3 linked regions of the Homo sapiens genome follow. The protein of the gene in region 1 interacts with the protein of each later gene in a pairwise test. Each region holds a gene or a part of one and is shown on either strand. Other genes may lie near its edges.

Region 1 (10,463 bases):
AGGAATGAATGAGCTAATATAAATAACATGCTAAAAATAGTGCTTAGCATATAGTAAGCACTATGTAAGTATTCACTATATTTATTATTGCTATTGTGATTAGGGAAGATGGGCTGGAACCACAGGAAAACTCTTGGCTGATATCATATGAAATGTATCAAGGAACCAATATGTGGAAGGCAGTAGAGTTAGGGGCTAACAGATGATTTAACTGCAAAAAAATGCTAAGCAGGAAACACCCTCTAAATATTCCTGTTTATACAGGACATGACACAAAGTAGAAAAATAATGAAAACAGAGCCTCCCTGCAGGATTTAGAGTTCTTTCGTATATATTTTAAATATACATGTGCAATACATTAAAATATATAGAGATGTGTGAATATATATAATCACAGAAGGGATACATACGCACACTCACTCACACGTCCATGCGCATATCCCAACAGGACCCATCTATACGTAAAGCAGATGCAGTCCATATCAGGCCAACTTGGACACAAGTGAAAGCCCTGACTCAACAGCAGATTGCAGATTGCAACTGTATTTGAGTAACCCTTCAATTTCTTCTACCAAGTGTAAGGCCATTTAGAAACACACTGAGAAAGGCTCCTCTGGGTATATGGCAGAACCCAGGGCCCCTCTGGCAGTGCACAATTTGCCTGAGTTAGGACTGCAAGATTGGGATATCAAGGAGCTATCAAGGAGGAGGGGCTCGTGTTATTTTGGGGCCTGAAACTAATAAGCAAACATCCATAGAATAATTTAGCTCCAGGAACAATGCACTAGTGTCAGAGAATCCTTAGATAACTGAGCTCTAAGCACATTTCAGGCAGAAGCAGAGAAGTGTGTGTTGCTACTCATCACCATCCAGCTTGACCCAGAGAACTGGGCAGAGCTTTTCAGGGTAGATAAGTGTAAAGTACAATCAAGCAGACTTGTAAGATTAAAAAGTTACTTAAAATTGAAGGATCTGAAAGCAACATAAGAGGTTACAGGTATTGGTTTGGGTTTATAAATGTTCCAAGAAGCCTAACCTTATATATGGCACCATTTGCAGCAATATCATTAACATTATTAATAATCATCATAACATATTTATATATACAAAAATAGAGCAAAGCAATTCTAGAAGAGGAGGTGTAAGTGAAGGTGTGGGGCTCTGTGCAGCCCAAATGTCAGTACACTTCAGGAAGATTCAGAACCAACAAAAAGTGAGTGGCACATATTTCTGTAATATGTATCCAACAAAGGGACATGGAGGTCCCCTCTTCCCCCCGTGTACTACTATACACTTCTCCCCACTTCTCCACCCTGCAACACACATCCATGCACACTCTAGAAGAGATGATCTATAAAGTTAGAGTCTGGAGGTCTTAAACTAAGTTGGAGCACCTTGATTTCAAGCAAGTGCCCTCAATCTCTGAATTCGTCAGTGAATTTTGGATTCACTTATAGAGGGAAACTGTATAATTCTTGTGTCTTTTAGCAGCAGTCTTTAGGAGCCTGCCATCACCACTGCAGCTTTTTCCCATTGAAGGGGGTTCACAGCACAGGCTCTCTGTACTTTTTAAGAGAGAAGTCAGTTCTCTACATTATACATCTTTCATCTCAGTTTTTCACTGTTGCTGAAATTTAAGTTCTCAGGCAGCTGCCATTGCAGACAAAGCCAGGAGCAAGCACAGTGTGTGCAGCAAAGAGTAGATGCAATGGCGAAGATACAGCTTGGTTAGGGCTTCTTTAAGCTTTTCTTTTCCACACTTGAGCTTCTACAAGGTGACAGAGCCAAAGGTGATGTCCACTGGGGGCAGCCTCAACACCTGATAGTTAATTAGCTACCCACCATGCACTGGAGAAAGACCACCACACTAACTAGGCATGGTTCCTGAAAAGTAATTGAATGGGAATGGCTTTCTGTCACTGTTAATAGAGCCCTAGGAAAAAGTCCCATGACTCAATGTGGTACAGGGGTAAGAATACTGAACTAGGAGTCAGAAGGCCTATATTCCAGTCTCAATTCTGCTGTTAACTCAGTGTGCGGCCTTGGGGGCAAGTCCCTTCCTACCTCCAGGCCTCAGTTTTCCCATCTGTAAAATAAGGGCATTGAACTAGATTAATAGTTAAGATTCCTTCCAGCTCTAACGTTTTATGACTTTTTATGTCCATTATTAACGCCTGAGCCATGCAGTCTCAGGGAAGTTAGCTTCTAAGAGAGAACATACCTCTGTATCCTTTGCTTTGTTCATTTAGCTATAAAGCACGTCTGCCTTTGGCACTTGGGTCAGACATACAAAGTTATGAGCATCCTGATTTACTATCCTACTCAGCATGCTAGTGGAATCTGTCAGCACTATAAGTTGATTATTGAGAAAGGGAGAAAAACTCCAACTAGTTAAACCTGGAAATATAAGATAACTTCGCCTCATGCGCTCACGAACAGGTGAGAGTGGTTGTGAGCACACACACACATCGGGATACACACTATTGCTAGTGATCAGTTCATTACAGTAATCCATTTCCCTTAATAAAAATTAGTAAATAGTATAGCATAGCAAAGTTTGGCATCTAAGGAAACATCTATGGAAAAACAGCACTTTTGGACATGTTAGAGAAAAAGGGACAGGTAGAGAGAGACAAATATAGATCAAATGAGATAGAAATACAGGCAGAGAAAGGATCAGTCTGAAAAAGAAGGAGGGGAGAAGGAGAAAGGGAGGAAGAAAGAGAAAAAGTAAAAGCAGACAGGGTGAGAATGAAGGGGAAAGGAATACAGAACAGAATAATGAAAGAGGAGAGAGGAATAAAGAAGAGAAGGGCAGTAACAGGGAGAAGGGGTCGTATTCCCTGGAAGGTTGAACGCTGTTCCACATGTACCTGTGAAAACCATCTTAGAAGAAAGCTTCCAAAGGCACAGCAGAAAACAGAGTGACGATCAGAGCCTGCATCGAGAGGTATTACATTGGGGAGCCCCTAAACCTCCACGTTGCTGGCCCTGTCAGTCCTCAGTGTTCAAACCTCATACCCATATATCACCTGAATTTGCCATGACAACCATAAAGGCTGAGCTGGCAGGGTGTAAAGACTGAAGAGGAGTGGGATAGATACTGTGAGAAAGAACAAGGCATCCTGCACCAGGATGTACTTGGTCATTCCCCTGACACTGCAGGAACAAAAGAGAGGCCCTAACTTTGGCTAGTTTATCACTCCTCCCCCTCTCCAAAGATGAGGCCTATGCTTTGCTGTTGGGGACTCGAAGGAGAAAAGCTCTGGATCCACCTTGTTGGAAGGTCATACAGACTTTTCCTGGGCCTTGGGGAAGGGTGCACTACCAGAAGAGATCTTTCTGCACACAGTGTTGGTGTGCCTCTTGCAGCGGCAGCCTGGTCGCCGGAGGCTATCATAGCCCTGTTGGCACAGATGGAGGCATCCACGGGTAGGCAGGTAGCAGCACAGGCAGGGTAGGAAGAGGGAGATGAGGCTCATGGCTGCCCAGCGGACAAAGCAAGAACTAGGCCCACAAGAGCAGGGCTCATCAGCACAGTTGTCTTCATCATCAGTGGAGCAGTGGTAGAAGAGGCCCTTGACACAGCAGAGACAAGTGCCATAATCGAGGAGGCTCTCAGCAGAGCAAAGGCAGCGCTGGTTGCACAGCCAGCAGGAGGGGAGAGGGCGAGCTGCTGTGCAGGGGACGCACTTGCAGCGCCCACATTCCTCACAGATGAAGAGGTGCTCACTAGGGTGCCCTGCAGATTGCTCAGCTTCTCCCTTCAGAGCACCATCAGCCTTTGGGTGGACCCCTGCTCCAGGTTGGGTTCGGATGATGGATTGGCCTGAAGGTGAGGGTGTAATGCTGGCCAAGAGCCTTTGATCAGAGGCAGTGGTGCTATGGGACATTGAGCTGGCAATGCTAGATTGGCTCAGATGCTGAGGCAAGGGCTGCAGTTGATGGCACTGGCTGAGACTGCGGGGGAGAGAAGTAGGCATGGTAGCCAGAGACCAATCAGACTTGTGGGTTTGCACAATAAGGGAAGGGCTGGAGAGGGCCTGTTTACAGGGGGCTGGAGGCCGTTCCACGTAGTCATTGCTAGCATGAGTAGAGCGCAGCTGTTCAATAGGCAGAATTTGTTGAAAATCATCTGTCACCGCAGCATCCATTTTGCCTTGATTTTTTAGCTCTGAGTGGTTTTAAGTCAGGGTGGCACTTATGGTGATAAAGAGGAGCCCTTGTAGTTACATGGATTTCAGGGCACATGAGAAAATCCTAGGAGAGAAGGCATAAAAACAGTAAATGAGAACACACAGGCATAAGTACTTTGCAAGAAACCAACAAAGCTCAGGCCCTATCACCACCACTACCTTCAATTACTTTACAGTAATCTTCATGCTACACCTTTATTCTGTAATTAACCTCACTTACTTCTTTATAGGCAAATCTCATCATCCCCTCCAGACTATAAAGAAGTTTGGGAACAAATATCAGATAGTTGATTCTTTTTGTATTCCATCAAATGCCTAGTTTCACAGGAGCAGCTAGCTCATTCAGGTATTTGCTAGCAGAGACATCCAAGCCTTGGGCATCAGAATTCTAATACAAATGGAACCTAATATTAACTGCAAAGGCTATTTTCTGAAGCAATGCTGAAGGAAAAGAGAAAGCCTCAAAAGTCTCCCATGAGAAGTTGCTCATATATATATATATATATATATATATATATATATCCAATCAAAATTATCTTTTCAGTGTGAATTTGTGATAAGCAGAAATAAACAGATAAGAAAGGACATTACTTGATTCAGTGAATACAGGCAAGCAAGGAGAATGCAATAAAGGCAGAGATACAGCAAACACACAGAAGGTAGGAATTAAGCTGTCTGCAGTGTAGTAGGAAAAAAAAAGGCTTCCCAAGAGTATAAGGAAACCAAGACTAATCATCTTGCAGTTCTCTTCACCTTACTGGCTGCTTTAACTTACTAAGGAAGTGATTCTTTTTAAATGGAATGGAGGCTCCAGAATCAAACTTTTGTACACGTGGGAGTAATACTGGGGATCAAGGAACTATAGAAGACAAGTCCTGAATTATTTCAAAAATCATCTGTAATTATACCTATTACTATCCTAAGTCACCTCCATATTGATGAGACTTACCAAGCAGAATCTGCTTGGACTTCTTTTCTCTATCACTACCTTACACAATAAACTGACTTTCTTAAAGGAAAGTGATATTCTTATACCATATTTAAGCTAAGTTGAATGTCTAGAAAGCATATGCTTGCATTTCCATTGTACTACAGTCAGGAAGAGGTGGTTGGTCATTCCCTGAAGGATTTTACCAAGCCTAGAACTGATAATGATGACCATGGGGAAAATACTGTACAAATAGCAGACTGCTGTATTGCACCACCTAGAAGACTGAAGAGTCAAAAAGGTGTACATGAAGAAACCTAAACACAAATCCAGGAAACATCCTGGAGGCATTAGGACGTAGCAAAACACTAGCATGAATAAAGTATATATTTGAGATCCATCAGATTTCAGGCCTTCTCAAAATAGATCAATTACTCACACTACTGTATGTGATGGATAGCTTGAATGAGTAATAGAAATGAACAAGTGAGAGAGGATGGTGCTTGATTACGTTTCCATAAGCAAGCAAACATGACACTGAAATGGGCCCAAAGCTCAATAACAGGAAAAACAAGGATGCAGTTCATAAAGGACTCAGTGGCTAATAATATGACCAGACTCAGTTGACTTTTGAGGCTATATCCTCATGCAAACCTGATAAGCTGAATTTACATCTGCTCATTACTTGAAAAGATTTAATTTGGTTACAAATAACCTTTTTGGCATATCACATCAAAGAACCAGTCTGACAAAAATTTCACTTTTTAACTAGTTGTTTTGGTGTTAAATAAATGCAGCATAAGAGAATGCAAATAAATATTATGGAAACTCTCAGACTCAAATATTTATGTCACTTTTGTCAAATCACTTGCTTTCTTTGGGCCTCAGTTTCACTATCTATGTGAAACTGAAGGATATGTGATGTGAACAAGGTGATCTTGAAGGACCTTGAGCCATTATGGTCTGTATTTCTTTCTATAACTACACAATTTTATAAAATATTTCTTTTCATCCGTATCTTCTACATCTTCAAGTCCTTGAGGGTAAGGTGGGCAATGTGCCCTTACTTATTGGGGCATTCAAAAGCAAAATGTATGTTTCCTTTATTTACTTGCACTCAAAGGCTCATGCAACCTGCCACCTCTACCTTTGCTGTATCTTTATAGATTCATAGTCTCAGCATTGGAAAGGAACTGGCAGCTTTCATGTAGACACCCAAATAAAAAAGGACACATTGTTCATTTGGCTTGGAGGGTATGTAGATGTAGGAACTTGGGACTGGGAGGAGTCTTTTGACAAATTTATGAGAAATAGATTTATGTCCCATTGATCGGCTAAAGAATATGTGGAGCCCTGCAAGTCCTTTGTACTGTAAGAACAATAATATACATGCTGAATGCAGTTTAGACTAATTGATTTCCCAAAGGAAACTAGATTCAAAACATATTGAAAATTCCAGGAAGCAATAATTTAAAGGAAGTTATACAAGGTCTCAAAGTTACAGGAGATAAACAGGTGAGATTCCAAAGACAGGATTCTAGGGATGTCACTAGGAACCTCAGGGACATGCCCAGAAGGTTGAAAGCTAATCTGGGAGGAATCTAGGTCATAATATAAATGACTCAGAAACAATAATGAGAATTATGTTCAAAGGGGATCCTGTCTGGGGAGCAGAAGGGTACATGGTGTTTAGGTTGAAAAGCTGTATTTCAATATTGATTCGATTTCTGCAAGACTGATAAATTGAGATGCTTGGTTGGATGATTAAAAGAAGCTGTGGGCATTATTTCAGTCTGAAATAATGATGCACTGTCTTGCCTACAAGTAAGGGAACTGACAGGATGAACTTAGAAGGTTTCTTCCTGCTCTGTAGAATCTTTTATTCAAATGGACTCTGGGATCTAATGTGGGAGACCTGCAGTAAGTGGACAGTAGGACCTGAATAAAATCAGAGTGTTGAGTAGGATTTAAGGATTGAATGACAATAAATTGTTTGCCATTCTGGACATGCTGAATCTGATCTGGCTAACAGGATGAACTGAAATAGATACTGTACAGGAAGGTAAGAGGGAAAAATATGTTGAGAAAGGAACAGGCAAGACACTGCTGTAGCACATAGGCTAGATGAAAAAGTACCACTACGTGAATGTTTATGATTCAGAAATCCACCCACTAAAGAGCCATTCATTGTGAGCAGCAACAGTTAAGAAACTGTGCAGTTGGCCAATTCCATAGTCTATCAAATGAGAGAGAGAGAGAGAGAGAGAGAGAGAATGTACACATCACATATTATTAAATAAGAGCAAAGGTGATTACAGGTCTTGGCTGCACATTGATGGGATCTAGTGATTTTTGTCACGTAGTGCCTCTGCAGTAATGAATGATGCATTGTAAACCCACTCCCATCACAGTCTCTCTGGCCAGGTGCTCATAGCTTTCTAAACAGTTTTTCTGTAGCCCTGAATTTGCCATGTTCAACCTGAAAAAAATTTCTTTTCTTATGCCAATTTAGGGACTAGAAAGCTAAGCCCATTCAAGAAATGCTAATGTTTGTTAATGAAAGAAAATGTATTTTCTCCCTGGAACCTAAAATCTGCCATGTTGAGAATAAAGTTGAAAACTTTCCTATCTAAAGCCCTTCTATGCTAACACCGCAAGACAGTTCTGATTTCTATGGTAAATCCTTTCCGATACAGTATGACTCAACGTTGATTTCAAAGAAGAGTGGAGTGAGGAAGAGGAGATCCTGGCTCTTGTTTTCTCCCAGTCTCACGGGTTCAATGCTGTTTTGTACCCTACTGTGTAACGGCTCTTAGGTGTGTTGCTTTTTTCTATGCTCTGCTGTTATATACACTCCTACTCAGAATAACTGAAAGCAAACATAGGGGGAATTTCTGCTTTGGCTTTATATGTTTTCTTAGTTCTACTGTTCCAAAGTCTGCTCTCTAAAAATCCCTCTCTGTGCAAAAAGCATTTGCATCTCTATCAAAGCACTCCCCCCTTACAAATACCAAGTTGTATATAGTTTACATTACTAACCTCTCTGCCACTGACTGGGCCTCCCTCCTACCGCATACATCTTGTTGGAGCTGCCAGGTTCTCACCACATTTAACTCTTAACTTGTCACTTTGCTACCCTAGTCCTATTCATTACTTTAATGGTTTCATTAAGACTCATAGCAGTTTATTTCAAACCAGGGAGTCTTGCAGTTTTAAGACCTTGAATGTTAAAAGATATAGGTCTTTTAGTGATGAATGATACAGGGAAAATTTGTAATACCAAATGAATTCACATCTAATCCTGAGGAAAATTGTAAGAAGAAGCTGGTTGTTCATCTAAGAAGTAGGATTTTTTTTTTAAAAACTCAAATCCTTTTATATGACACAAGAAATTTAAGGTCTAGTCCTAATGGTAGCTCTACTTTGCTGCGTGGCTGTAGGCAAATGACCTCCGTTCTGGTCCTCAGTTTCTTCATCTGCAAAATAAAAGGAGGGTTTTTAAAGGCCTTTCTTGTCCAGATGCTCTAAATTTTATGTTGGGTTTGTTGGTTGCATTTCTCTGTTTCAAAAGTCTTTAAGGAAGAATTAGTGTCCTTTCCTTTAGGTTCTTTACTTCCTCACTACTCAACTCCTCAACTCTTAATAAATATCTTCAAATCTAAGTCACTCAGATCACTATCTAGACTGTTTCACAGCTAGAGAGACCTAAAAACAGAACACAAAGAGACAAATATATAGAATGTTATAGTAATGTCTTTGTATATGTTTGTTTAGAGGCAAGGAGAGCAAGACCAATATTTCATTGTGGATAAACGGCTAGCCTGTGCCTTATTTGTATTTATGAATGCAGCCGACTTTTTGGGAACATGATTTAACACCTGGTATATCCAAATTCATGTGATAACACATCATGATACAGTGAGGTTTTAATATTACCAGAAAAGCAACAATAGTTTCCATTTCAAAATAGATTTTCTGCTTAAGAGTTCAAGGTCTGTTTTCTGTTCATCCAACTTGGTTTGCAGCATGCAGAGGTGAAGAATGATAATTATAATTAGCTTCATGGAAGTGAGTGTGCAGTAAACCATTGCCCTAGGTCTTATCAAATGCCTATTGGCTAACTAGACGTGCTCACAGGTTCTCACTTTTGACAGAATCTCCATATGCCACACAGAGACATGTGCACACGTACCCAGGCACGGATACAGAGATTTCTAAATCACTGCTCTGACTCAATGTAAGTGGGGGGTTCTGCCGTGTCAGCTTGCGCCATGTCTACCCAGGGCAAGGTGATGTGATGAAATCTGAACGATGCACAGCCCAGACTTGTGAGCCAATAGCAGAGGCTAGCCCCATGCTGACAGGATGCCCGCTGGGCAGCCAGACTGGCCTTAGCACGGGCTCTCTCTCTGTCCTCAGCTTGGGTGGTTAGGCTGCGTTTTGAGGGGTTTAGGCAAGTACCAAAATGCATTTAAAGGTTAACAGGCTAGAAATTAAATTGACATTCGCCTAGAAAAATATTATTTTGAAGTCCTATTTGGATTTACACATTTCCAATGTGGATAGTTTTCTGCGAGAGCCGATTTATTTAAATATAATTTAAAGGGTTTTCATTTTATTTTATCCATGCGCTTGCGCGCGCGCGCCCAAGCGCGCGGCACACACACGCACACAGAGACAGCACAGGATGGCTGGAATGAATGGCAATCTGTGCATTGCATAGAAAGAATTCTGGGTTTTTAAAGAGCTAATTTCTATGGCTTACCTTGAGGAAATGGTTTATCCATGCTGAGAAAAGCAGAAGAACTAATGCCCCATCTGGCTCAAAGGATCTCTTCTCCTCAGTCTTTAGGTTTCTCCACCTCTCTTCGGAAAGTCTGAATGAAAACTCCTTCACTGGCAGGCAGTGGAGCCAGAAACAGAGATAGTTCTGTCTTGTTCTTTGACACAGCAGAGAAAACACAAAACAAAACAAAACAAAACAAAACAAAACAAAAAAACGGGGGAGGGGGCGAGTCAAACCTGTAGTGGCATATACTTTGTATAGATTTTACAGGCAGATCTAAATCTTGATGGACGTATTTCCCAAAGAAAGCTCAGCAGGGTAAGTTGTTCACCTCCTCCTCTTTCTCCTCCTCCTCCTCTCTCTCCTCCTCCTCCTCTCTCTCCTCCTCCTCCTCTTTCTCCTCCTCCTCTTCTTTCTCCTCCTCCTCCGCCTCTTTCTCCTCCCCCTTCTCCTCCTCCTCCTGTTTCTCTTCCCCCTCCCCCTCCAGTATTTTCCTTCCCCTCCTCTTGCCCTCCCCTTTCCCTCCTCCCCTTCTTCCTCCTTTACCTCCTCC
Region 2 (10,463 bases), on another chromosome or scaffold:
AAGACGGGGGCACGGGGTCTGGCTAGGGCAGGATCCTTGCCTGGTATCCATGGTGGGGTTGTCACTCGGCTCCGGGTAGACAATACCATCTTCAATGGGTGCAGGTTCCAGATCTTGGGCAAAGACCCCTTCCTCTTGTGACAATAATCGGATAATATGGGGATAGGAACAAGGTTGGGAAGCCTGAGGCCGAGGGGGCTTTTCATTCTGGGAACACACAAAGGGATGTTAACAGAGCAGAGGTGACAGATGAGGCAGTGGTAGCTGGGGGGTAAGCCCTGAGTATCCTGGGGGCCAACCCTCCCCTTGGAGAAGAGGTGGAGGTGAGTAAGGATGCGGTGTGCACTCATTCAAGGGGAAGCTGAAGGACAGACATCGAGAAGCCAGGCTGGGCTCCAGTTGCTGATGTGAGCTTCTGGATGAACTATATTAGCACTCTGGGCTGCCAACCTCCAGCTACCACTTAATACCAAGAGTCCTCCAAGAAACCCAGCCCAGGGCAAAGGCCACTTTTGCCTCTCTACCCCAACCCCTCCCCTGCCTATCCTGATGACCAAACCATACAGCCCAGCCACCCCCATCCTGGCTTTGCAGTTCAGGTTACCCATGTGCCACAGGGGCAGAGCAAGCATAGCTGGACCAGTGCTCAGGTCCCAGCTGGTGGCAAAGGCTGCCTAAGGCCCCTTGGAACTCTCTAGAGAGCTGGGAGAAAGCAGGCTCACCTGGCTAGTGAGTGAAGTCTCAAGGGCCTCCTGCCCATGCTTCCTGGGACCAGATGGGATGATGGCCAGCGAGTCCTGGCTAGGGTCCTGCAGGCTTGGGGCCAGTGTTTCCAGCTGCCGCAGATCCAGCATGGATCTAACGCTCAGTTCCACACCTGGCTGAACCCAGCGCCCTCTTCTTCTGGGTCCTGGGTTGGCTGCAGGAGCTGGGTCCAGGAACCCCACGGACTCCTGTGCCTGGTGGGAGGTAGGGGGTGGGGGAGGAGTAACAACAACCACACAGTAAGATCAACAAATATCCACATATCCCTTACTATGTGCCTGGCACACTACACATACTAGCTTACTTCATCCTCACAGCAACCTTTTGAAATGGGCACTAGTATAATCCTTGTTTTACAGATGAGGAGACTGAAGCACAGGGGGCTTAAGTGAGCAGTCTGCGTCCCACAGACAGTAAGTGGCCTGCAGATTAGTCTGGCTCCAGAGTTCATGCTCTTAGCTGCATTCCGCATCCTCTGGCACAGGAACCCCTAGTCTCAGCCTTCACCTGGTATCATGGATGCCTCAGAGCTGGGGGTCTCTAAAAGTCTCCTACTCTGAGGACAGCCCCAGCAGCAACCACTTACTACCAAGAGTCCCCCAAGAAATCCAGCCCAGGGCAAAGGCCACTTCTGCCTGTCTACCCCAACCACTCCTTTTGCCTCTCTACCCCAATCACTCCAATAGCTGGGGGCCCCAAAGTCCCCTCACAGCACCAAGGACAAACCTATAGCCCAGGCCTGAGACCCCTGGCCCGGTCAGGGTGCTCCAGAGACACCACAGCATCATCACTCTGTGAAACTGTTGCTGACAACGGAAGGTACTGGTGCTTGGGAACTTGCTCTGAACACCTTGATCCCCCTTTGGCCACCCCAGGGCAGTCGCTGAGTTATGGGTCCCCTCATGGCCTTTTCCCTCTAACTATTCTGGAAGTTCTCCGCTTACCTCCTAACCGGGATCTTTAGAACTGTTTCTCCAGATCTCCGCTCTTTGGATCCTTGATTTCCTGCATTTTAGTTCTAACTATCTGGCTTAGGGGTCCTTTGTCCTCTCCACCTTGAGCTCTTCTCTGATGATATTTACTTCCAGGCACCAGGCAGCTGAACAAGTGCCCCACCTCCCCAGTGCTGACTAACCCTGTGCTCCATCCACCCCAACTGGTCCACAGGAAGGAAATACCTGGGCTTTCTTCACCCCCGCACCCAGGACCAGCCCAGCTGCTTCAACTTCCCCGACAAGGCCTTCCTTGGACACACGAGTGCAGCATGTGGGCAGACCCCATGCCCCAGTACCCTACCAGGCCCAGAGAGCCCTGTTCTCACAGCTCCCTTTGCCTCCTCTAACCTTGGAAGAACATTTTAACAATGGCGACTCACCCGACTCATCTCCCAGTGGGACAGGCTTCGGGGCAAAGCTGGGCTGGGGACCGAGGCTAGACAGAAACAGGCAGTCAGAGGAAGTGTCTCCTGCCCCCCCCCCGCCACCCAACCCTGGAGCCCTGGCCCCATCAGCCCATACCCTGTGTGGCCACAGTGATGCCTCAGTTTCCTCAGCTCACACTGCTCTCACCCCACAGTCTCAGAAAAACCATATCTAGCCATTATACCAACTAGGGCCTGTCTGCCCCCACACCCAACTGCCACAGACCCAGTGCCTTCTTGGTACTCTTGGCAAGGACGGGCAGTGCTGGAAGTTCTTCTTCAGTCCCCTCATCTTCTCCCTCCTTGTCACTGTCTGATGAGAGAGCCGGTCCAGGAGACAGCATTGATGGGGCCTGGTGCCTGAGTCCGAGACAAGGAAGGGCATGGGGAGAGGAGACTCAATAGGGGGAGAGGAGGCTCAGTGGGGGAAGAAGGAAGAGGAGACTCAATGAGGGGAAGATGAGACTCAATAGGGGGAGAGGAGACTCAACAGGGGGAAGAGGCTGACATCATGGATCCTTGTGTGAGAGGTAAGGTCTTGGGAGACAGAGTTGCTGAATGGCAGGCCCAAAGCATGGAGGAAGTGCAGTGAGGTCCCAGCAAGCCATCTGCACACCCACCCATCACTTGCCCACATTCTGTTCTCACCGGTTGGGTCCAGAAGCCCTTTGGGGAGAGGATGGTCCTTGCTGCTTGCCGCCCCGCTGACGCTGGCGCAACTCGGCCAGACGCTGCCTCATGCTGATGGTCATCTCAGAGCTCAGGCGCCACACAAATATGCAGCTGGGGTAAAGCCACACAGTTGGCTGAAGGAGGGGCAGGTAGAATGGCTAGCGCCATTCGTTCCCCTTATCCATGGATGGCAAGGAGACCAGAGCCACCCTCCACTTCAGGTCAAGCACAGCCAAAAGCTATCCCTGTTAACCCCACTTCCCAGAGACATCACTGAAATGGAGAGAGGGGAGGGCAGGGTGCTGTGGCAGAGTAAGAATCTGCCTCTCAGGGAAGCTGGCTTCTGCTCACCTGTCCCCAGACACAGAGATGAGATGTTTACAATCATTACTAAATTTCATGCCAGTGACAATCTCTGTGAAGAACAAAGAATACGGTCTATAAGCCACCTTAAATTCCCAACCAAGTCCTCTCCATCCCAACAGTGGACACGGGGGTTGGCTGCAGGGTAGGGATAGGTAGCTCTGCGGGTCCCAAGAAACTAATAGAAGAGTGAAGTTCCAGGGGTGGAACTCACTCAGGTTTACGCAGGTATCAGCTTCTACTCGGGGATTCAGGCTACACTCACCTGAGTGGCCAAACATGGTGGCCACGCACTCGCCTGAGGAGAAGTCAAAAATGGAGAGATTCTTGTCAGAACAGCTGGTGGCAATGTAGATCCCTGAGGGGTCTGTCTGCACCTGAGGAGTAGCAGGGTGTGCAGCTGGAGGACATGGGAAGTACCAGTCCCTCCCACCCAGCACCACTCTGTCCCCGAGCCCCTGTCCAGTACCCCCTCTGGGTCCTTACCTTAATGAGTGTGCCGTCCTCACCCTGTGACCCTTTAAACAGCTTCTTCTGCTTTCCACTGCTGATGTTAAATATCCTGTAAGAAACATAGTCTCTTTCTCATGAGGAGGCGGTGAAGGTGGAACACGCCTGGGGGATGGAAATGCCAGCTTTCACTCCCAGTCTACACTCTCTGGGAGCTACCCCCAGCAGCAAACAGGCTACCACCTCTTGGGTGAAGCAAAGTACTGTAGGCTCAAGGGGGTACAAAGTCCTGTACAGAACGACAGATGTGGGAACTTAGCTGCACAGAGCTGACCCCGTAGGGAGATGAAGGAATGTGGGCAGAGTCTGAGGAGGGGACGCCCACCGAATATTTCGGTCCTGGCAGCCGATAGCCGTGTACTTCCAGCTGGGCTCCACATCCATGTCATAGAGGGTCGTCTTCCGCACCACGTGGTGTGTCCGTGTGAACTGCACTCCATCTCCAGACTGCAGGGGTGGAGCATGTGGGCAGGCCCACACCCAAATGCCTCACCAGGCCCCAAGAGCCCTACTTGCGCCTCCCTTCACCTCTTGTAACCTTAGGCAGGGAATGGCAGACCCCGCCCTGTCCCGCCCCTCTCAGGAAAGCCCAGCGCCCTCACCTTCTGCGCAGTGCGGAAGTAGATGCTCTTGTCTGCTCCACAGCTGATCATGCGGACTTGCCCATCACTGGCTATGAAGGAGGGAAGCCCAGCTGTTCCCACTGTTCTCACCACATGGGAGCAGCCTGCCTCCCACCTTCCCTCCATGAGATCCCCCATCAAGCTACTCTACATGCCAGGGAAAACCAACTAAATTAAACCTGGAAACCCAGGTTTTCCTGTCTCCTTATCCTCAGTCCAACCTGGTTGGCTCAAGTCCCAGCACTGAGAGTCTCTGTTCCACCTATCTTCCCAACCAGCTCCAGGCCTCCCAGCTGCTGTCCAACACTCCCCCACAATGGGCAGACCCTTCTCATGGAGGTGGGAGGCAGATGGCAGCAGGGGTGAGAGTGGCAGGATGTGTCTCATTCACCCTGCCCGCACCTGCAAACTTAACAGCAGTGATGGAGGATGAGTGTTCGTCCAGCGTCTGCTGTAGGCTGTACTCCCGCCCGGCATCCAGCACATGGATCAGCCGGTCCCGGCTCGCCGATGCTAGCAGTTTCAGACCTGGGGATGAAAGAACTCCATCAGCCCATGAGTGCCCTGAACAGCCCTTATCTGGGCCTGGCAAAGAGCCCCAAGGGAACTGAGCCCCATATCCCCAAGCCATGTGAACCATGGAGCAAGGACAGAGCTGTCTTCCTCTAAACCAGCAAAGACACCAATGATCCAAAGATTACCGACCCCACGTCCAAGAGCCGGGACAGATATAAGTGGCACCGGCAGGACTGGAGGAGCCCTGTGCCATTCCGGGCATTCTCCTAACCTGTGTCTGGCTTAGAATACTCCAGGCACAGAATCTCAGAGTCATGGGCCTCCACCTTCAGCATCTCACTCAGGGACTGAAGTTCGTGCACCCTGCAAAGATGAGGAGAGGTGGGAAGAGGCCATGGCCAGGCCGCAGGAAGGACTCACGCCCCCTCCTCTGCTACATTTTCTCCTCCTTTTTCCTTTTTTTGAACTTTTAGGCTTAGAGAAAAGTTGCTGAAAGAACAGAGAGCGTCTATATTTCCCTTACCCAGCTTTCCCTAATGTGAACATCTTACATAACGATAGTGCAATTATCAAAACTAGGAAATTTATGTTGGTATAATACTATTAATTAGAGACCTTATTCAAATTTCACCAGTTTTCCTACTATGTCCTTTTTCTTGACTCTAGATCCTATCCAGAATCCAAATTGCATTTAGTTACTTCTCCTTAGACTTCTGTGGTCTGTAACAGTTCTCTGGTCTTTCCTTACTTTTCATGATCTTGACGTTTTTGAAGAGTATTGATCAGTTACTCTGTGGTATGTACCTCAATGTGAGTTTGTCGGATGTTTTCTCACGCCTATATTGAGTTTATGCATTTTTGGTAAGAATACCACAGAAACATTGTCACATCCTTCTTAGTACATCCTATCATGGGCTTAATGATGTTGATATGAGGATGTTAACCTTGATCACTTGGTGAAGATGATTTCTGCTAGGTTTACTCATTGTGAAGTTATTATCTTTGCCTTGTAAATAAGTATCTTGTTGCCCAATCTTTTTGAGCCAAACCCTCCCTAAAGTTCTAAATACCCAACTCTGCACCATGAGAGGCAGTCAGTACCCACCCAGGGCCTGGCATTACCTAAGTGTGCCCATACGGTCCCCTGATGCTAGATGCTGTCCATTGGGGCTGACACACACCGAGCGGATGCCCACGCGGGGATCCAACAGGGATGCATCAGCTTTGTCTCCTCCAGGCAGCTCTGTGTCCAGCAGGGCCTGGGTGTTCCCATCCACATAGATGATTTTAATGAGGTCCTAGTGGAACAGGTTAGAAAAGGTGGATGAGGCAGGCCTGACCAGTACAGCTGCAAGGGGCAAGAAAGCTGAGCAAAACAAACCCTTGGACCACAGAGCACAGCCAAATGAAGGCTGGAAGGCCAAGGCCTAGGGACCAGTTCCCAGTAACAAGGTGCAATAGCTGTGGGGATGGGGGCACTGAGGGTGAAGCGGGGCCCCACAGCCTCAGGGCTCACACTGCTGAGGATGTTTCGGTGGAGGGTGGAGCCATGCACCCCGGAGCTCTCTGTGTTCCACAGGCGGATGGTGTTGTCTGAGGAGCAGGTAATAAAGGAACTGGGGGGCAGGCAGGCCTGGTTACTATCCTTCACCTCGGGGTAGACCTGAAGAGGCCGAGGGAACACAATCAGACCTCCATTCGGGAGCAGTCCTCTGCCTACCCAAGGAGATGGAAGGGAATGGGACGAAAAAGGGAATGGTGGCCAGGACTTAGCCCAGTGCCTGTCACAGGCCATACATAACTGGTATATACCCTTCAACATGACCAAGGGGAAGCACCCACTATATATCAGGCACTCTTCTATGTCTCCCACTTACATTATTTCATTTTATTCTTAGAACAATTAGGTGAATCAAGTACACCATTTTACAGGTGAGGAAACTGAGGCTTGGTCAAATTCAATAACTTGTCCAAGATGACCGAGGCAAAACTAAGGATGGGGCACACTGGGGAAGCCTGTAACATTCAAACTCAGTCCCCAGGATCTATCCCAGGGAAGTCACTGGAGAAACAGGGAGGCAGCAGGAATCTAAGATTATACTTGGGGATCCCTATTTTCTGTCCTCAAAATGGTATCCCAGCCAACCTGGCCAGTCTCCAGCCAGCCAGCCAGCCCACATACCTCCACACTCCAGACGCAGGAAGAATGATACAGAGCCGAGTACACCTTGCCCACTTTCTTGGGGTCCCTCACATCCCAAACATAAATGCTATGATCGTTGTACACACAAGACAGCCACTGATTAGTAGGATCAAAGGTCAAGGCAATGGTGTCTGGATACCTGGCATTCGCCACTCCAGAGAAGAGGCGACTGTAGGGAGAGGACAGGGCACACTGGTCAGACTGAAGGGAATGAAAAGAGAAGCCAATCCACAATGGAAGGAGCAGTGTGTGAGGAGCCCTCCCTGGACCTGCAGGTTTGGAAGTAGTTGCTTGAGAGAAGAAAGGAGCCCCTACTAGCCATCAGCAGGAACCTGACCCAGCACTAGCTGCTGGGCCATGGTGTTCGGATGAACACAGCTTCACAGAACACCAACGTTAGACAAGGTACTTCTATGGCTGTGATGGGGCAAAACAAAAACAAGACTACTCTGTGCACAGATAAAAACAAGATCACCATACAAACCACAACGAACCATGACAATGACCAAACACCGCCTTTCCCATCTACATGACTGCTGGCGGCTTCTTGACCAAATACAGCTTTAGCCCCATACCTTTCCTTCACCTCTTAGATAAATTAACAAGATGTTCCACTGTAGAATTGCCCCTAGTTCCGGACAGCATCCAACCAGAATACTTCAATCCCTTGAACGATTCCTAAAATCACCCAACGCAAACCCAAATCCCATATGTCCCTCCTAACACCCACTTACTGAGACTCTCCACAGTTCTCCATGGGGTGGGGTCTCCTTGGTTGCAACAAGTACCAATAAACCCAAATTCTTCTGTCTAAAGAGGTGTTCCCAATAATCTTTGGGGCATCAATACACTCTTCACCTGCTCCCTGAGGCACTGACAAGAAAGACTGGGCAGGGGTAAGGCTACAAATGGAGGAAGGGGGGCCCACATAGCTCACCTGGCCTCGGTGACGCTAGCAATGTCTGTCCCCAGAGCATGGGGTCGGGGCAAGGTGCTAAGGAAGTGCAGGTTAGAGGGGTTGAAAAGGCGCACGGTGCCATCAGCACAGCCACAGAAGATGTAGTCTTGGCTCACAGAGATGCAGTGGGCCACTGTGGTCTGTGGGCAGAGTGGCTCAGCTCAGCAAGGCCACCTGCCCACTCAGTCTTCTCTCCTCCCCACCCATCAACAGCCACCTGCCAAGAGGAGGGACCGGCCAAGGCAGGGGCAAGGGAAAAGCCGCCCAGCTGCCCTGTTCTGAGCCCCTCAGCCCTGTCCAGCCAGGGATTAGGAACCGAGGATTCTTCTAGGCACCAGAGGATCCAGTAGGAAAAGCCCAGTGAAGAGAAAGAAATAGCATGAGAAAGAGAGGAAGGTGCAGGCACCACTTACTGTGAAGCTGTCTATGTTCTGAGCGGAAGAGGAAAGCAGGGGAAAGAGACAGAAAGAGCAGAGAGGAGGCAGTTATACAGATCACCAAGGGCTGGAAATGGGCCAAGCTCTAGCTCCCCCAAGCTTCGTTCTCCTGGGATCTCCCGTATGCACAAGGGACCAGCCCCTAGTCTGAAGCCCTGGGCACTAGTTCTCCCCTGAGCTGAGACATGAGCAGACCCTACCCCTGGGGACGGAGGTACTTACCCTCAGCTCCACCCACTTGTCCAAAAGCCTTCGATCACTGAACTCGCACAGCAGCCCTGAGGACGTGATGCAGAAGGTACTGTCCGCCTTTTTTCCTCTGCCACAGGCCACATCAGTGAATAGGTTGTTCCGTAGCTCTCCCAGCAGCCCTGAGCGGCCCAGCAAGGGCACAGTGGCATTCACCTGTGGAGGCACACCACTGTTACACCCCCATCCACCCCAGAGCCTGCCCCTGGAAACTGGGCCCTAGGAGAGTACAGGGGACGCCTCCAGCACCTCCTTGCTCTTTGGGCCTACTCCTCAGCCCAGACAGCATCTGGCTCATCCAAAACTTCTGCATGACTGCTGGGAATGCAGAGAGAGGCCCAAGTGGGGCAGAGTCTCCTGGGTTGGGCTGGGCAGGCCCTGCCAGGGGCCTTGGTGGCTACTCCCAGCTTCAGCACCTCACCTTTGAGGTCTTGCTGTCATCGAGATACCAGAATTTGATGTGTCGGTTGCCTGCAGTGACAAAGTAGCTGCAATCCTCAGAGAAGGACACTGCTGTCACCCGACTGGACACCTTGTTGGAGGCCACCACAATGTTTTTCTGGAGGGGATGCCAAAGGAAGAATCAAGGCTCTGTCTCTTGGAGCTAAGAAGACAGTGACTCAGAGAATGGAGGAGAATTAGAATTTGTACTTGACAAAGTGTTTCTTTCCAGAATTTACTGGCCAGAAAAAGAGGGGTAGGGAAATAATCCCTTTCTAGAGGAGCTGAAAAGATTCGTTTCCTGCAGAAGTCTTTGAAGGCATAAAGCTAGCCCCTTCAACCAACATGCTTGGCCACACAGTTGCTCTTTTCTGCTTCAAATAACTTTCTAGAATGAGAATGGTTCAGTGGGGTGGAATGGAGCAGTGCAGGTCAGCAGTCTCTTGCCTCCCCAGCTGACACTTGACCCCTGTGAGGCTGCCAGGCCACCCCACCCAGCCACTCACCTTCCAGGCCCACACGTTGACGATCATGTCATGCTGGTAGCCCACAGAGACAATGTACTTGGCGCTAGGAGAGAAGGCCACACAAGCCACACCATACTTGTGCTCCTGCAGCTCGGCCACCTGGCTGTGCTCTGCCACGTCCCAAACCCGCACGGCAGGCATGTGCCCACTCTGCAGGGAGGCAAGAACTGGAAGTGAGTTCTTGACTTCTCCACAGGCATACAGCCCCACTTCGTCTTCCAGAGCGGGGCCCTCGCCTCCTCAGCTACTAGATACCATCACTTCCCCAGCCAAAAGTCAGGGCAGGGTATAGAGGAAATATGATAAAGATCTGAGGGCAACAGTGATTACCAGGAAGAAAGTGGCCCCGGATTTTAGTCAGCATCTCTGGGTGGCCGTCTGTACTTCAGGTTGTTCAAAGCTCCCTGAATGGTTCTGATGGGCAGCCGGCATTGAGAGCCACTACCACTCAGGTCTATTTCTGCCCCTAGTAAGACTACGCCGCCAGGACAGAAGCGTTCCTCCTGAGCCCAGCAGGGGGCCCCCGGGGGTAAGGAATAGTTAAGGCAGTGGTTTCCAAAGCACGCTTCCTTCACCAGCAGGATCAGCACTCTCTGGGAACTTGTTACAAATGCACATTTCAGACTCCCATCCCAGACCTACAGAATCAGAAACTCTGAGGACCAGGCTAGTGATGTGTGCTTTCACAAGCCCTCCAAGTGATTCTGATGTACACTAAAGCTTGAGAACCACTATTTTAAGGTATAGCGAAAACCAGGATTTGGTGTCTGTTTCAGAAG
Region 3 (10,463 bases), on another chromosome or scaffold:
TTGCAGCACATTTCTGCCCAGGCTTTGGAGGAAGAGGGATTTTTATGAAATGATATTACACATATCACATTGTGGCAGGTTGTTTGTTTTGTTTTATATATGCTTTTAAAATTCATTAGCAAATGACATTCTCATGCACACGAGTGTTTCAAACACAAGAAGCAAGTCCATTTATAGGTAGTCCAAGCAATATTTGTGTGTGTGTGTGTGTGTGTGTGTGTGTGTGTGTGTGTGTGTGTGAATAGCTGCAGACTGAATGGAACATTGAGACTTTTGTGCAGTCCATAGCATTGACATCAGCTCATTTCTGGATGTCGCACTGCAGAAGTAATACAATGGAAGGGTCGCTCTTTGCAGCTTCTTTGAATTCATCCAGTGTAATCTGGTCATCTTTGTTCTTATCCATCTTGCTGAAAATCTTGTCTACTCGCTGCTCAGGCGTCAGGCCATCCTCATTCATTTTCATCATGATCACAGTGCCTACCATTTTGTAGATAGCCTTGGGGAAAAAAGCATTGTAGGTGATATTACCAGAAACCCAGGAGGACAGAGAGCTCTTCTTGCCTCCCTTTCACCTGACGGGATCCCACCCATCCTCCAAGCCTCAGCTTCCCTTTCCCCAGAGGAGTTTCACTCCTTGTGCTGCAAGTTTCTGTGACAACCCATACCATTTCCCCCAACAGAATACATCTCACCTTTATTAAAATAACTGCTTTGTCTTCCCCACTAAAGAGTATGTTCTATGGAGCTAGGAAGCACGTGCTCCTGTAAGTCCAGGGCTTGGTATGATGCCTGGCACATCACAGGTCTCAATAAATACTGATCAAATGAAAAAGCTTTAGCTGCTGGAGCGTGGGATGTGGGGCAAGGGGCAGTAGGAGGGAGGGCCAGGTGAAGTGTTGAAAGATGAAGCTGGAGAGAGGGAAATGAGAAGCAGATCACCGAGTTTTCCTAGGATAAGATAAAGAATTTAACTTTATTTCAAATAAGTCCTTAAATGCTATTGAATAAGAGATGACATAATCAAATATGGGTGAGCCTTGTGACCAACTGGATATAGAAGAATTTGGGGTGGCTTCCAGGTTTTTGGCTGGAGGAAGTGGTTAGAAAGGGTGGCTCAATGGTGAGATTAGAAATAATGGATTAGGAATAGGTTCAGGGAGGAACATGATGGGCTCAGTTTTAAACATTCTGCATCTAGGTGCAGGAAACAGTCAAAAAGCACTAGCCTTGGGGATTTAGGAAAAGAAGAATTGTGGGGCCAACTGATTAGAAACTTAGAATCTAGTAAGACAACCAAGCCAGTTGTACCATTAAAATTGAACTCTGCAAGAAGTTAGTTTAGGGAGAGTTGTGGAGCAGGGACTCTGTTTATAAGTTAAAGAATAGAGTGAGAAGATTTCAATTATCCAGACCAACTAACTGTATACAATTAATTCTTGATATGAAATTTCCAAAGTATAAATTATTTCCTTTCTTAGAAAAGTGCTTTAAAAATAAATGCCCATCTATACAAAGACTTGCATGAGAACATTCATAGCAGTATTATTAATAGCCAAAATGTGGAAATGACACAAGTGCTCATCAACTGTAAACAAATAGGATACAGCTATACGGTAAAAAAATATATACTATTTTAGCAACAAAAGAGAATGAATATGCTACAGCATGGATAAATCTCAAAAATATAAAGAAGCCAGACATGTAAGGCCACATGTTATGTGATTCCATTTGTGTCAAATGCCCAGAAAGGGAGCCAAATCCATGGAGACACAGTGATGTGTTGGTTGCCTGAGCCTGGGGTGGGAGCGGGCCTTTGGGCATGAGGGATCTAACTGGGGGAATAAAAATGTTTTAAATTTACATTATGGTGATGGTTGCATATCTCTGTACACTTAGTAAAAATCATTTAATTTGTACACTTAACATGGGTGAATTTATGGTCTGTAAGTTATAACTCATAAAGTTGTTTTTAGAAATGCCAATCAGAGCAAACCACTAACTAGAAAGTGCTTTATTTAACAAGTTAAAATGTCCACTGAGATAAAATATTTTGTGCGTATTTACTTTTGTAGCTAGATGGTATTGATGTATCATGGAACACTTTAAGAAAGTTGTCTCTAAAAGAGGCAGACTTTCCGAAATTTCATTTTGTGGATAATTGGTAGACAAGGTCCTGATTAGTCTAGTAGCCAGAGTGGTGCACAAAGGAAAAGCACGGAATGTGTACTGTCTGGAATTTAAAAAGAGACAAATGGCCCGTACACATGTAAGCTGCCACTCTCACCCTGGCCTTTAAAAGGCGAAATCAAAAGCCCTTACATGAGGCAGTGGGTATGAAGGCAGCAAAACAAGTGCACTATTAATAAAGTCAGGGTAATAAGAAATGTAAACACAAGAAGTCCCTCCTGGACCTCAGGAAGCAACTCTGAAAATGGCAGGATCTCATTAATCGTATCCATGACACAGCCCTACAATTGGGACTGTGAACACGACAACCAAGAAGGGCCGTTTCAGATGCAGACTTTTACATATCACAAAGGCCGGGCATGCCAGACTCGGAACTCCGTGTGAAACTGCCCCTGTGGTCCCCAGCCCTGATGGACCTGTACTGACTTGCCTTTCACTGTAAACTAGAAAACTGGATAAAAATAAAAGAAATAGCTGTTTTCAGACTTTACAACTGACAGTGCAAGACTGTAATTCCTAAGAGGTGGGAAACAAAGTAGATGAACCCTATGATCTCAGCCCAGAGTCCTTCCTGGACCGCAGCACAAGGAGAAGGGTCCCAAGCAGGGCTGACTCACCAACTGGAGGAGACAACAATTGGAGGAGGAAGGTGAAGATAGCCAGAAATTTCGGGGCAGAGGACCAGAGAGGGAGCCAGGCAGAAAGAAAGCCTCAGAAATCTGCCTAGGAGGACTCCTCAATGTTTATCTGGAAACTAGGCTGCACACAGAGGATAAAAGTTCACAAAGAAGTTTCTGAACAATAAGCTGAACAACTCTTGGTGCTCACACAGGCTTGCAGAGCATTCTAGTTCTTAATGCAAAGAGCTTGCTAAATACCTTGGCATTCAGGAAGCCTGTTGTCCATTCTTCTTCTTTTTAAAGCAAAGCTTCTGGCAAGAGTTTTCTGCAGTCACTGTCTTTACTTCTTCCTCTCCCATTCTCCTGGGCTGCTCTATTTAGGATTTTGCCACCAACTCCTCTGAAACTATTCTCAGCTGGTTCACCTATGGCCTCCAGGTTTCCAATTCCAATTGTCAGTGATTACTTTTCTCCTTTTACTTCTTTTATCAATAGCATTTGACATGATTGCACATTCCATTCCTTCCCCACAAAACAGTGTGTTTCCCTTCCAGGACTTCTCACTTTTCCTTTTTTACTTTGACCTTTCTGGCAATTCTTTCTCCATCTCCTTTACTGATTGTGCCTCATGTTCCTCACCTCTAAACATCAGGTTGCCCCAGGACCTCAGTCCTCTGGAAACCTCTTTTCTATTTATATTCTCTGTCTAGTTATACTCTGATATGTCCTCTTTCACTTAAATACCTGAATAAGTATCACAACACATGGGGCTGGTTCCCACCAGCCAGAGTAGAGAAACCTCACTAAATGTATGAGAAAATCAGTAAGAACCCCAAAATGGTCACAAATTGGGCACTGGGCTAACTTACTACAGAAAACCTACTCTCCATCTGCTCTAAAAGCTTAAAATTATAAAACTGCCTCGAAAAGATCACGCTAATTTACATATAACTTACCTGCCTGTCAAAACTAATCTCAGCACTCTATAAATGAAGACAACAAAATACAGACACTCTAATGCAACATTCATAATGTCCAGGAACCAATAAAAATTATTACACGTGTCACGAAGCAGGAAAATGTGACCCATAATCAGGTGAGAAATCAATCCATAAAAGCTCTGAATAGAAGAAAGGAAGAGCTAGAAGTGATGGGGAGAAACGTGGAAGAACTAAGAGAAAGAAAAGCAGCCGCTGACAGCCAGGAAATGGCCCGGACTGCCCACCGGGCCTTGGTGCTGCCGGGAGCTGGCCCAGCCCTCACAGTCAGGTCTCACACCAAACATAACCAATGTCACAAAATGCCAGTGACCATGATGGAGCAAGGCAAAAACAAGACCACTCTGTCATTAAGTCTGAACACAGACACAAAACACCAAGCATCCCTGCTTCCTGCTATGGTGAGTGACCACTGCTTCTTCACCCGTTAAGAGCATTGCATTGGTCTGTGTGCCCTCCTCCTAGGTATCTAATCATAGAAGTGTCCCCACTCCCTGACAGTAACCAATCCACAGTAAACCTCTGCTTCTCCGAACCCTCCCCAAATCACCCTCCCAAAGTCCAGATCCTAGAAGTCCTTTCTAACACCCTCCTGCTGAATTGCCCCAAGATTCCCTCACTGCAAGCAGTAATAAAGTCAACTTGTGTAAGTGTGGGTATGTCCTTGGGGACTTTGGCTGAAGGGCATTGACAAGGATTAGAGAGAAAAGTTTTGGAGAGGAAGGGTTTTGGTGGCCAATGAGGGGAAATGACAAGAAGTCAAAGAGGAGAAAAAACTTGGAAAAACCTACTCTGTAGGGAGCTTATAGAGAGACCTTGGAGGGAGCCAAGTTAAGTGTGGAAGATGGACAAAAGATTAAAGAGTGAGAAAGATGAGAAAATCAAGCCACATGTTCAGAATTATTGTGCTGTATCTTTTCTGATAACCTGCTGGAAAAAATATATATTCAATTGAATGAAGGGAACACAAGTAAAGAACTAAGATGTTAGTTTGCTGGGTATATTTGAAAGGGAGTGGGCATTGAAGATAGAAGGGGAGAAGCCAACGGAGAAGAAGAGACTGAAGATGTGGAATGAGAGGGTGTGCAAGTGAACGAGGCCAGCTTCCCAGGCAGGGAGTTGATGGGTGACTTCTCTCTGAGGCTGGGAGGAGAGTGAGAGTCCTGAGGGGAACTTGGGGCTTTGGCTTCTGTTTCTTGCAATCATCCCATTTTCTTGTGGGGATCCACCCTGCCTGATCTCAGCTCTTGGTGTCTGGATGGGGCATCCCCCCAGCTCCAGGATGGAGCACCTGGCTCTACCTTCAGCAAGTGATACCTTTCTCTCCTTGGTCAGAGTGGCTGGTGCAGGGGTGGGAACCCATGCTAAGACAGTCAATCAAAGGAAAGCTACCGAACCATGCATCTGCTATTGCATGCCTGCCAGGCTCCAGGCTGGGTCTGGGTTCTGGGCATGCAGCCGTGAGGGCAGAGCCTCCTCAGAGAGCTTGCATTCTGCCATATATTCCACTCAACAAGTTAATCTGGGGCAGGGACAGATGTTGGGACAAAACCCCTCTTGGTAAGGGTTAGATTGCTTTGGTGTGAGGGTGGAGTGGGCATATTTGGGAAGGTATGCAGGAAGGAAGACCTCTCTGGGAGATGGGATAAGACCAGAGATGGGAGCAAAGTGAGGGAGGAGCCCCCAGAGGCCAGGGGAGGGCATGCTGGGCAGAGAGAGAGGAAGTGGAAGGCCCTGAAGTGGAACCGGGCATTAGAAGAAAACCAAGAAGACCTTCACATTGGGAATGCAGTACGCAGTGGGTGGCGTGGCAGAGGAATCCTGGGTTACTCACAAACACAATGGGCAAAGCCTGCTTGCTGTGGAATGACCAGAACCTGGAAGGATGTCCCGGGAGCCCCTGACAGCCTCGGGTCCCCACTAGGCGCAGCTGGAGTGAGGCAGAGCAGAGATACACCAAGTGCCAGAGAAACAGCCCATGACATCCTGTGTGCACAGTAAGACAGGTTCGTGGGAGATCCAGTAGTGAGTGAATGGCAGATGACAATGCCACCGTCACGACAGTACGGGCCCCATGGCTTGGTTCTGGGACCTCCCCAGCACTGTGCTGCAGCGGGGACAGAAGCAGGAGAAGTCCAGGCGTGGTGTGCAGCTGGCAGGGCTCGAGCAGAGAGAGAAGAAGCCACTAAGGCCTGCACCTAGGAGGCTGCCGTGGGGTCTCCTTCTGTGCCCACCACCCGCCAACCACACCCCGGGCCTCACCTCGATGATCTCCAGCATCTCCACTCGGGTGATCTTGCCATCACCATCCAGGTCATACATATTGAAGGCCCAGTTCAGCTTCTGCTCAAAGCTGCCCCTGGAGGTGATGGACAGAGCGCAGATGAACTCTCGGAAGTCAATGGTGCCGTCCCCATTCTTGTCGAAGGTTCGGAAGGCATGCTGGGCAAACTTGGAGGCGTCTCCATAAGGAAAGAACTGCAAAGGAGAACACGCGCAGTCAGGTGTCGGGAGGGGATGGAATCGGGGCGACGAGGTAGGTTCCTAATGACGGCATCACAGGTGCTCCTGGGCGTTGTCGGAGCCTCACCCATTGGAGAGCAGTTTGGCCTGACTGTCAAGGGCAAGGGCAGGCATTAGGGGAGGCTTTCTCACAGCAGGTGCTCAGGTACAGGCATCTCATTGTTTCCTGTGGGTGAGGCTGGTGACATGTGGCTTTCAGTTGATGGGGCTTGGAATCGGTCAACAAGCACCACCTGATGCTAGTGTTGCAGCATCTCAGCTCACTCCCCCCAGGAACAGGACTGAGGCAGACAGCAGTTTCTCTCCCCACACAGGTGGTGCTACACGAACTTCAATGTTCCTCTAGATATGAGAATCTGGCTTCATCGCTGCCCAGTAGGGCCAGAGGGAGGGTGCCCAGACCTGGTTTCTCCTGCCACCAGCCCTCGTCCTGGGCCCACACTTATCCCCTCCCTGGGTGAGGTTCCAGTTTCTAACTTCTTTTTGCAGGGACTTTTCTTTTGCAGAACAGACATTTAAAACTCATTAAAAATAGAACATGACTGGGCTTATTTTTGAGAGACATAAAGAGGTTTCTTCACAGAGCCAACTGTCACCAGGGGTGTGTGGGAGGCAGAGAATGGACACAAGGAGGAAAGGGAAGCATAGACCACAAGGAGGGAAGGCCATGGGGAATCAGTAGGTGGTGGCCTCAGTCCCCTTGGACATAAGCCTAGGCCAGTCACAAACAGCAGGTAGTTCTGATAATTAACAAGGAAGAACTGCAAAGCCCCAAATACAACCAAAAACAAACCATGTGCTATTTTAAAGCAGAGAAGTTACGTATGTATTTCTGGATGAATAAATCTGGGTTCTGGGCTCTATAGGCAAGCACTACAAGGTCTATAGAAGATTACTGAGGTTGCTCATTGATATCCCTTTTCCTTCGTAAGTTTTGCACCTGCTAAGTGGACCAGGTGAGCAGCCTTCATACAGATGGCCTCTTTGCCCACTCTGGGCTATCTACCTCGAGGAGCCCTCGGTCCGTCTTTCTCACTGTGCATCCTGACCTGGGTCCTGCAGAGCTCTGCTGCCCACTCCTCCTGCACCTAGAAGCACATTGGAAGGTAGAAAATTTCCCTCCAGACATAAGATATGCTTTAACACAGAAGGATTCTATACATGGGGCCCAGGGAACAGCCAAGCATTCCAGGAGAAGGAAAGTACCCATTACTTATATTTTGGTAGTACCCATTGCTAGGCACAATGATCTGTTCCAGAGACTATTCCTATATAACAAATCACCCCAAAAGCTAGTGGCTTAAAATGACAACAATCATTTTATTATCTCACGAAATAAACATTTGAGACCCATTTCTTTTTTTCATCAAACATATCTTTTCCTGGTTACAAAGGACAATGTTCTCTTATGTTCCCTCATTCCCTAAACATATCTTTCACTTCTCTTATCCTTCATTTTTCATTATTCGTCAGAATTCACTGCGTTCTTATTCATGTCGGGCCTCGTCTTGGGTGCTATGGACTCAGAGAGCAATACCTCGAGGTCTCTGTGTTCCGAGACTGCACAGTTAATGGGGGGACTTTACTCAAAATTGACTTGGTCATGTTACTTGATAAGAACTAGAACAGAGGAGAGGGCAAAGTATTACTAAAGCTCAGTAAATGAGCTGTTAGTTTCAAGGAGGGAGTTGTAGAGGGAAGGACTTTCCTTCTTCTTTGAACAGCTCAGCATGACCCCAGCCCCTCACCCCCCAATGCTACTTAGGTGCTTGGTACCTGAGGACAGGCTGCCAGGCGCTGAGTTTTGAACTAAACAATGTTGAATCTGAAAACTTCTAAATAGGCAAGTTTGCTCCTCCTGTGCCTTATGCATGAGTGGTCCTGGTCCCTTTCTAGAGGGTACTTTGGCTGATGTGTTCATCTGCCTTGTGATTAGGGGCCTGGGTGGGGCTGGCACCTGTGAACTGACTTGGAGTGGAGCAGAGCGAGCCCCTGGACAGGTTCCCAAGTCCCCTTAGTGCTGTTTACCCGCCAGCATTTCTATGTGCAGTTGGCATGAGACCAGTGGGCACGAAACCTCCATTCGTGTAGGTTTCTGGCACTGTAATGCTTTAACTATCTTATGTCTCACAGCCTACTTTTAGGTTAAGGGATAGTTGACAGTTTTATCTAAAAATAACTGGGCACCTTGGGTCAGTATATTAAAAATTAATTTAGGTCTAAAAAACCTTGAGAGAAAAATCAATTGTAAATTTTGAGCTATAAAAGTTACATGTGTCTTGCAGAAGGTCTATATACTGACTTTTACAACCAACATGTTTACTTTAGAACTGAGTGTGTGCTCAAGAGCCTTCAAATTTCTGGAGGGGTTGTTTCCTTTAGGAAATTTATCCTATCATGTTCTGAGTGCTTTGAGTTTTTCTAACTAGGGACATGCTCCTTATTTTGACAAAATAATTCAACTCTAGATGGATCATCACAGAGAAATGAAGCTGCATTCCCTTCAATTTCTTAGGAAGAATTCAGGGTCTTGAACTCAGATTTACTTCTCCTGGAGGACAACAGGGCCTGAAAAGCACAGTATTTTTCTTTTTTTGCGTACTCTTGTTCAATTTCTTTTTAACTCAATGTATTTTGTTTCAATTCTTGTATTAAATTTTGACATGGAAGTAATATTCGATGGCAGTAATAATCTATAAATAATATGACAGATACAAAGAACTTTGAGGTTGAAAAATTAAAAATGTATATACACACTCATATGTATATGTATATGTGTGTGTGTATGTGTATTAGTGTTCTCTCACTTAATTTTCATAACAAAATCTGACATTGTACTTTCCATTTTGTGGATGAGGAAGTGGAAGCCTAGAAAGGTCAAAGGCATTTGCCTAAGATTCCTGGCTGTCTGCAGCAGAGGCTGGATTTGAATGCAAATCTGTCTGACCGTTTCTGCCACACCTTGAGATTTATCTTAATCAAGTGTTAGCCGAGGAAATAAACTTAACTCCACATTTGATGAAGCAACCAAATGTGTTGCATTATGTAATTCTTAGCATCCATTGCCTCTGAAGCTTGAAATTCTCTGCTCTGAGTATTTTCGCCACCTTCTGGCAGCACATATGTACTGCAAGGAAATTACTGAGATTCTAACTGAGTTATTTTCTGACTCATTCTTTAACTCAACATTGAGAGCAGCTGCTATGTGTCAAGGACAGTGTTAGGTGCTGGCAATAAAATAGAAGAAAGACATAGAGCATTAAGGAGTGGGGGAAAATAGGCATTAATCAAACCACCATATAAAGAAGTATAAAATTTTACTGTGATAAATTACAAGTGTATGGAGCTGCAAACAAAAGTAATGGACATGATATTGTCAGTTTGAAGCTTTAAAATATTCGCATGTGGTCCTTTCCCCCCATCCTAATATACAGGCTGCTGACAATTCATTGTTCTTCATCATAGCCTAGAGTTTCAGAGTCTGAGACTTCTTGGGATTACACAGACCTTGACTGCTCCCGGTTGTACTCCATACCCTGTCCCTGAACCGAACAACCTGCAGAAGAAAACCCCAGGAAACACTTGAGGTCTTTTCTTTCCCCAGGCAGACAACAGGAGTCTTTGCATGGTTTAACCAGCTTCCTCCTGGCCAGGGCAGGAGCTTTTTCTACAGACAGTGGGCCCCACTCTGCATTTCTTTCTTTTCAGTAATCTATCTAGTTGTGAATATCAAAATGTTTGTTTCCTCTAAGAGGTGGTGCATGAGAACCAGACACATTAGCCTCTGGGCCTCCAGGGCCCCACCCAGCGTGGGCACAGAAAGGCTGAGTGATGATCTACAAACACTGTGCCTCTCTCCAGTGACACATTTCCTCTGCACCCCTATCCCAGCCCTCCCCAGCACCATTGCTGCCTGGATAGCTTATCCTTCCAGAGAAAATATTGCAGCATTTCCCACATGAATCTCTCCCCTCCAAAGATCCCTGGTTCACTGCCTCAATGTGATGGAGGAGGCAGCTCCCCAAGAAGTTCTCCAGCCCAACCTTTGGGTGGGGGTGGGGTGGGCACAAGCAAGGCCTTGGCCAGGACTCACCCCTGCCCATGCAACAGCTGATGTGCTGTGTCAGGAGGG

What was found.
Region 2: the proteins of SPRY3 (region 1) and MAPKBP1 interact in binary tests that used the Homo sapiens proteins (3 or more experiments, as listed by UniProt).
Region 3: the proteins of SPRY3 (region 1) and VSNL1 interact in binary tests that used the Homo sapiens proteins (3 or more experiments, as listed by UniProt).

What each region holds. Positions count from the first base shown.
Region 1 is NC_000023.11:155,767,563-155,778,025, reverse strand, and holds part of SPRY3 (protein sprouty homolog 3), read right to left. Parts: intron 10,231-10,463; exon of another isoform or gene 10,065-10,230; 5' UTR 9,890-10,064; intron 8,601-9,889; exon of another isoform or gene 8,164-8,600; intron 4,261-8,163; 5' UTR 4,155-4,260; coding exon 3,288-4,154; 3' UTR 1-3,287. UniProt on the Homo sapiens protein: Inhibits neurite branching, arbor length and neurite complexity. Inhibits EGF-mediated p42/44 ERK signaling. Negatively regulates the MAPK cascade, resulting in a reduction of extracellular matrix protein accumulation.
Region 2 is NC_000015.10:41,811,328-41,821,790, reverse strand, and holds part of MAPKBP1 (mitogen-activated protein kinase-binding protein 1), read right to left. Parts: intron 9,835-10,463; coding exon 9,664-9,834; intron 9,276-9,663; coding exon 9,138-9,275; intron 8,873-9,137; coding exon 8,690-8,872; intron 8,462-8,689; coding exon of another isoform or gene 8,444-8,461; intron 8,171-8,443; coding exon 8,010-8,170; intron 7,242-8,009; coding exon 7,052-7,241; intron 6,533-7,051; coding exon 6,386-6,532; intron 6,168-6,385; coding exon 5,992-6,167; intron 5,233-5,991; coding exon 5,141-5,232; intron 4,882-5,140; coding exon 4,756-4,881; intron 4,404-4,755; coding exon 4,333-4,403; intron 4,178-4,332; coding exon 4,056-4,177; intron 3,783-4,055; coding exon 3,707-3,782; intron 3,598-3,706; coding exon 3,486-3,597; intron 3,273-3,485; coding exon 3,209-3,272; intron 2,969-3,208; coding exon 2,834-2,968; intron 2,546-2,833; coding exon 2,412-2,545; intron 2,197-2,411; coding exon 2,141-2,196; intron 960-2,140; coding exon 723-959; intron 208-722; coding exon 41-207; and 1 more. UniProt on the Homo sapiens protein: Negative regulator of NOD2 function. It down-regulates NOD2-induced processes such as activation of NF-kappa-B signaling, IL8 secretion and antibacterial response. Involved in JNK signaling pathway.
Region 3 is NC_000002.12:17,645,233-17,655,695, reverse strand, and holds part of VSNL1 (visinin-like protein 1), read right to left. Parts: exon of another isoform or gene 6,287-10,463; coding exon 6,071-6,286; intron 5,916-6,070; coding exon of another isoform or gene 5,686-5,915; intron 500-5,685; coding exon 302-499; 3' UTR 1-301.